Homo sapiens: one gene and its partner. The protein of the gene in region 1 purifies or fractionates together with the protein of each later gene. This does not show direct contact. Each region holds a gene or a part of one and is shown on either strand. Other genes may lie near its edges.

Region 1 (3,025 bases):
GAGACAGTCTACACTGAATCAGTTTGAGCTGGTTTCATAGTTTTGAGGAGACAGAATCTGATGTGTTAGCACATCACGAGGGCGAGGGACAGGAAGAAAACACAAATAATCCAGAATTTTCAAGTTCAAGTGCTTGGAAATATTCATGCCATGCACAAGCAAAGAAATGGAATTTAGAGGGGTCTAGGATTAGGAGCAAAGACAATGAAACAAGGGGTTATGGAGCCCCCTTTTTACTCTTTTCAAATTTTCTGGCATGATATACTTTCTAAGACATTGACACATTCTCATCTTATTCAACCTTTGGTAAGGCATTTTCTCATCTCACAAGATAGAGGTGATAGAAATAATGTATCCATTTATTTCTAAAAGATTATGTAAAACAACCTGAACCAGTTTAATTAGGGGAAAAGATTTTGGGTCGAAATAATTCAGAATTTTCTGCCAAAGAAAATGAAAATAAATTCACTTTAAATCCTTAGCAGTTTATTGGGCATTTGTCACATGCAGCAGTAGCTGAAGAGAGTGGCAGTGATAATGATGCAGATGTAGTTACTTATTTTCATTCAGTCCTTCAACCTGCTGTTATCCTCTTCAGGGCAGACTTCACTTCCTGGTTCCTCAGTGTATAGATGAGGGGGTTCAGTAATGGAGTGACAACAGTGTAAAACACAGCCGCTGCCCCATCCAGGGGGTCTTTGGAGCCAGCCCTAAGGTAGATGAAAATACAGGGGACATAGTAGACTGTGACCACGATTAGGTGGGAGCCACAGGTGGAGAAGGCCCGGCGCCTCCCATCAGTGGTGCGTATCTTCAGGATGGCATTTACTATGTTGGCATACGAGAGCAGAATTAACATGAAGCAACTGGCGGCCACTACCCCGACGTCCACAAAGGTCACAAGCTCATTGACAGTTGTGTCAGCACAGGCCAGTCTCAATACTGCGGGGATGTCACAGATAAAGTAATCCACCTGATTGGGCCCACAGTAGGGCAGGCGGAAGGTCAAGGTGGCCTGGATAGACCCATGCATGGAGCCGGCGACCCAAGCTCCAGCCACAAGGACTGTGCATAACCTCCCATTCATGAGCACTGGGTAGCGCAGGGGCTGACATATTGCCAGGTACCTGTCATAGGCCATCAAGGTGTAGAGGAAGCACTGGGTGCTGCCCAGGAAGTGAAAGAAATACAGTTGAGCCACACAGCCACCAAACGGGATAGCCTTGATGGAAGGAGTAAAATCCAAAATAAGCAGAGGAACGGTGACTGAGGAGAGCCACATGTCCAGGAATGAGAGCACTCCCAGAAGAATGTACATGGGGCGAGCACAGAGCTTCGGGTCAGCCCACATGGTGAGCAGAATGAGCAGGTTCCCCAGCTGAGTGAGGATGTAAATGATGAAGAAGACCAGGAAGAGGAGGCTTCTTAGATTTGGGGGGTGAGACAAACCCAGAAGAATGAAATCTGTCACCACGGCATCCAGCGATGTGTTTTTGGTCTTTCCCATGTCTTTTTGTAGTCTGCTAAGATGAATGGTGACGTTTGACAAGAGAAACACAGCACAATGATGTTGTAAGTGAATGCTTTTGTCGGATGATTGATGCCTAGGAATTATGAGATAAACAAGATAGAGTCAAATTGTTTTTTAAAAGAGGAGGTGGTGTCACCATTAGTTATTTAGGTTTACTTAAAAGGAGAAGTCCTCCAGAGGCTGGTTAGTTTCCTAGATGGGAGGAAACTCTTGTCCATTGAGAGATACTGAAAGCCAGGATTTGCCAGATGAAGGAAGAGGGACACATGAGAGTGATAGAGAAGTACCGAAAATTCCAACCAAAAAGTGAGTTCGCCAAGGAGGGGCTAAAGTTGATGCAGAGCAGTGTGGAACAAACACCCTATAATGACCACATCTACTTTTTCTTCACCTACTATCATTGTCCCCTTTTTCCTCAGCTAAAATCTCATCTCCTTAACATATCATGCAAAAATATTCCTCATCTGGCCCTTATTTATATCGCTATTGTACCACTTGTAATTCCTTCTTATTGTTGGGAGGCATGACACTCTTCAAGCTTCTCACAGTAGTGTGCTCTAACTTGGGACTTACGCACACACTATCTTTTCTGCTCCCTTCACATAGGTAGTGCCCACTTTTCCTTCAGGATTCAGTTTGAGTGTCTTCACCTTCAAGAAGGCTTTCCGGATCCCTGAGGACAATGCTTATACTTTTCTGAGCACGTACATTATGTTGCATTGTCTAATTTCTGTTTTTCTCTCTTAATAATCATCCCGTCTAGCATGCTAAAAGTGATAAATACCGTAATTATTTTCTGAATGACTGAGATAGATAGAATGGATGTTGCCAAATCCCCCTGACTGAATACATTGTTTCTCTTGATCTTTTTTGTCTGACCCCTGTGCTCACATGGCTGGGACTTTTAGGTCAAGGGACCACCTCATTCACCATGTAATATGGGTATAATTTCATTATAAAAAACTCCAAGAAACATTTATGCCTGTTTTTGCTCCAGGATATCATTTAGATTTATTTGTTGATTTATATGGTTCATTGGTTTGGGATTGGGTTTTTTTTTTGGTATGAGGTCACAGAGGAATTTTTATTGTTTGTTATAAAATCATTGATTAATGCAGGACTTGATCTTTAGTGTGCTTGTGTGTAATATCTATGTATTGCAGTCTATCAAACAGCAACTCTCTCTAAAGACATTTACAGATTTTCAAGTATCTGAACAAGATGATAAAATAGAGGGATGGAATGTGTTTGTTTCACTCTTTTTGTTAAATAGGTTGCTTGATAAAGACTTTTCGCTCTATATATGGTTTGAGATGCATTTATCTTTCATTTAACTACAAAATATCTTTGTAATGCAAATGACTACTTTCATAAAGCAATTAAAATGACAATAGATTATTATAAATAACATGTGAATATTAATAAGTTTAATCTCTATCGGAAATTCTCCAAAGAGATTTTATCTTAAGTATTCTGTGAAATAACTTAATTCAT
Region 2 (3,500 bases), on another chromosome or scaffold:
CAGATTGCTTGAGCCCAGGAGTTCAAGACCAGCCTGGGCAATATACCAAGACCTTATCTCTACAAAAAAAACAAAAAACGAAATTAGCTGGGCATGGTGGCACATACCTGTAGTCCCAGCTACTTGGGAGGCTGAGGTGGGAGGATTGCTTGAGCCTGGGAGGTCGAGGCTGCAGTGAGCTGTGATCGTGCCACTGCACTCCAGCCTGGGGCACAGAGTGGGACCCCGTCTCAAAAAAAAAAAAAAAAAAATTTAAGAGAGAAAGAGAGAAAGAAAAAGAAAAGGCCTATATTTTAGAAAGTGATAGAGCTGGGAGGTTTTCTGTTTGGTTTGGTTTTTGTTGGTTGGTTGGTTTTCTCAATGTCTTTACTTGATCATTAAAAAAAGCAGCAGCAGCAGCTGGTAACCCTATTTGCCCTATACTTCTTTTTGTACTCATCTTTGATACCCAGAAGTCTAAGAAATACTGATTTGTAAAGAACTGTTTTACCCAAAATTGTAGCACTTTTCTTTGCAACTTATTTTCTCCCAAACACTCCAGCTTCCTGAGATTCCTCTTGAGTGCTTAGAAGAGTACCTGGCTTATCAGAAGGGCTAGATAAGAGTTAGTCCTTTTATTCTTGTATATCGATTTTTTTTGCATATCTTATTAGGATGGATCTAGAAGTAGAATTGCTGGGTCAAGAGCATTCCTATTAAAATGGAGACTCCTGTGACTCGGCTGTCTTCCTGAAACATTATACGTGGAAGTGTCCACTTCCTCACACCCCGCCATTTTCTATGACATCCAAGCAGGAAAACTGGGTGGACAATGAGGTGAGGAGGTGCAGAAATTCCTGTCGCCTCCTCCCCTCCTGAGCTCAGAATAGTTTGGGTCTGAAAGACGGCTGCTCCCCACAGGGAGGTAGAGGAGGTGAGATGCAGAGGCTCGCAGCCCCCTAACTCTCACGGGCACCCTGGGAGATCTTGTTCAAGGCACAAGATTTCACACGCTGACGGCCACAACTAGCCTGCCTAAAGCAGCCAGTTTTGCTTGAAAGATGAGCTCCACTTATCCAGAGTGGGTGCCCCACTCTGGGCTGGGGCCAAGTCTAGAGCTCTTCGTCTTACTTGGCCACAGAAAGAAAAAGGGCGGAACATGCTGAGGATGCCATTGTGCCTCTTCCTCCTTTACATTTAATGGACCAGTAGAGAAGAAGGAATGCGTTTCACCTTTCTGTAAGTAACACGCTCAGTTCATTCCTTCCCAGCTCTCCATCCACGAGATGGATGACCCCCACGGCAAGCGCTTCCTCATGGTGATGAAGGGGGCCCCTGAGCGCATCCTAGAGAAATGCAGCACCATCATGATCAACGGCGAGGAGCACCCACTGGACAAGAGCACTGCCAAGACCTTCCACACAGCCTACATGGAGCTGGGCGGGTTGGGCGAGCGTGTGCTGGGTGAGTGCGGCGGCAGGGCCCTGCCCATCACCTGGTGGGCACAGAGATGAGGCAGGCGCCTTGAGGACCTGTGACCTAGCCCAGTGGCCATGGCATCCACGTGAAGCATGTAAAGGAGAACATGATAAGCAGGATGGGAACAAGGAGAGGATGCTGTGTGACAGCACCAAGCAGGGTGGGATGGCCTCCAGAGAGGCAAGCTCAGGGAAGACTTTATGGAAGGAGTTAAATTTCAAACTGGGCCTTAAGTGACTGCATTTGAGGGGAGATAGGGGAAAGTATCCAGGGCCCAGGGAACAGCACAGGCCAATCACAGAGGCAGAACGGCGTGGGGCACATTGGGTGCTGCCAGCAGGTGAGATGGCACTGTCACAGAAACAGGGTTCAAGGGCTGGACTGGAGGTCATGAGATGGAGGTCTTGAACATCTGGGTGAGGAGCCAGGTTTCATCCTGCAGTCAGTAGAGAGCACTGAGGGCTGTGCCACTAGAGTGAGCTGGGCAGTCGCAGGGCTGGGGAAGACTTTATGGAAGGAGTTAAATTTCTTTAACTTCTTTAAATGTCTTTGGCGGCAGCAGGGAGAGGAGAGATGCACATCTCCATAGGAAGCAGCTGCCCTTGCTCAGGCAAAAGGGATGGGAATTTTTTCAGGGTGATGGGAATGGGAAGGAGAGATCAGGGCAAGAGACTTCATAGAGGTAGAGTTTGGTAAGATTTAGAACCTATCAGAGAAGGATAATGTTTAAAAATGATTAAGCTTCCCATTTAACGACTAGGAAGAGAGTGATGCCAGTGATGCAGACAAAGTGTCAGGAAGGAAGGAACCTTAGAAATGCAACAGGAGGAGGACCCAATGGGGGTGCCTGCGGTGTTGTCAAAGGGGACAGTGTGTCCTGTTGTCAGCACCAGGGCTGGCGGAATGGTGCCCCATCAGGACCACAGAATGACAAATTCAAGGAAACAGAAGTGTATGGTTGACGATCCGGCTCATTAAACACCATGGAAGTCCTCACCAATACAGATGCAGTCTGTGGAATGTGTGTTTCTAAAGGCTATTGGAGTTGGCAAATCAGATAAAGCATATAAATGAGATGGTGATGCTTTAGGCATCCAATAACCCACAGTACCGGGTATTCTACACGGGATCGATGCCCACTTGCGTTTGATTTCTCAAAGCCTGCTCCATTGACATTTGCAAAGCAGTGGGCCAGGCTGAAAATAAATTGGATGTGAAAGCTGATCACACAATCTTGGAGGTCCCACCAGACACAAGAGTCCCTTCCACCTCAGCCTATGAGAGGCTGATGCCTTCTGAGAAAAGGATGGCTCGGCCCCATTCCTGCTGGCCTTTCTCTTGGGCTTATCTTGATCTAGCACTGAACTTTGTGCCCCTCCGCTGAACCCCCTTGTTCCTTCACATGCTGTTTTCTCTGCTGAAAATGGCCTTCCCACCTCCACCCTCCCTTTTTTCCCTAGAAATCATCTTTGCCCCTCTCAAGCTTCACCTCACATGTGACCTCCTTGGGGAAGTCTCTCCTAATCCTCCAGGCAGCTGAAATGTGTCTCTGCCCTGAGATGTACCCTATGCTTGATCCCTTTAACTCTGTGCCCCGCTAAACTTCAGAAGTCGAGACTGTGTATTGCCCTAGAACTTGGCAATATAGCAAGATATATTTCTAGAACACAGAGCCTAATGAGCTCACAGTGAATTATATTTGGATGAAATATGTCTTTCCTAAAAAAATGCATTATGGAGTTGAAGAAATTAAACAATTCTGGCTTATTCTAATGTATTGGTAAAACAGCAGAGGACCAAGGTGTATGAGCATGTTCTCCTCTTATTTTTTTTCGTTTCCTATTCTAGTTTCACTGACTCACTAATTCATCTGTATTACAGGTTTCTGTCATCTCTACCTGCCAGCAGACGAGTTTCCAGAAACCTACTCATTTGACATAGACGCTATGAACTTTCCGACCTCCAACCTCTGTTTTGTGGGACTCTTGTCAATGATCGATCCCCCTCGGTCCACCGTGCCAGATGCAGTCACCAAATGCCGG

Evidence for each region. The genes of interacting proteins can lie anywhere in the genome.
Region 2: the proteins of OR10G2 (region 1) and ATP12A purify together in Homo sapiens (affinity purification with mass spectrometry; one large-scale study listed by BioGRID and IntAct). This does not show direct contact.

What each region holds. Positions count from the first base shown.
Region 1 is NC_000014.9:21,633,336-21,636,360, forward strand, and holds OR10G2 (olfactory receptor 10G2), read right to left. Parts: upstream 1,606-3,025; 5' UTR 1,508-1,605; coding exon 575-1,507; 3' UTR 501-574; downstream 1-500. UniProt on the Homo sapiens protein: Odorant receptor.
Region 2 is NC_000013.11:24,697,408-24,700,907, forward strand, and holds part of ATP12A (potassium-transporting ATPase alpha chain 2), read left to right. Parts: intron 1-1,250; coding exon 1,251-1,443; intron 1,444-3,339; coding exon 3,340-3,500. UniProt on the Homo sapiens protein: The catalytic subunit of a H(+)/K(+) ATPase and/or Na(+)/K(+) ATPase pump which transports K(+) ions in exchange for Na(+) and/or H(+) ions across the apical membrane of epithelial cells.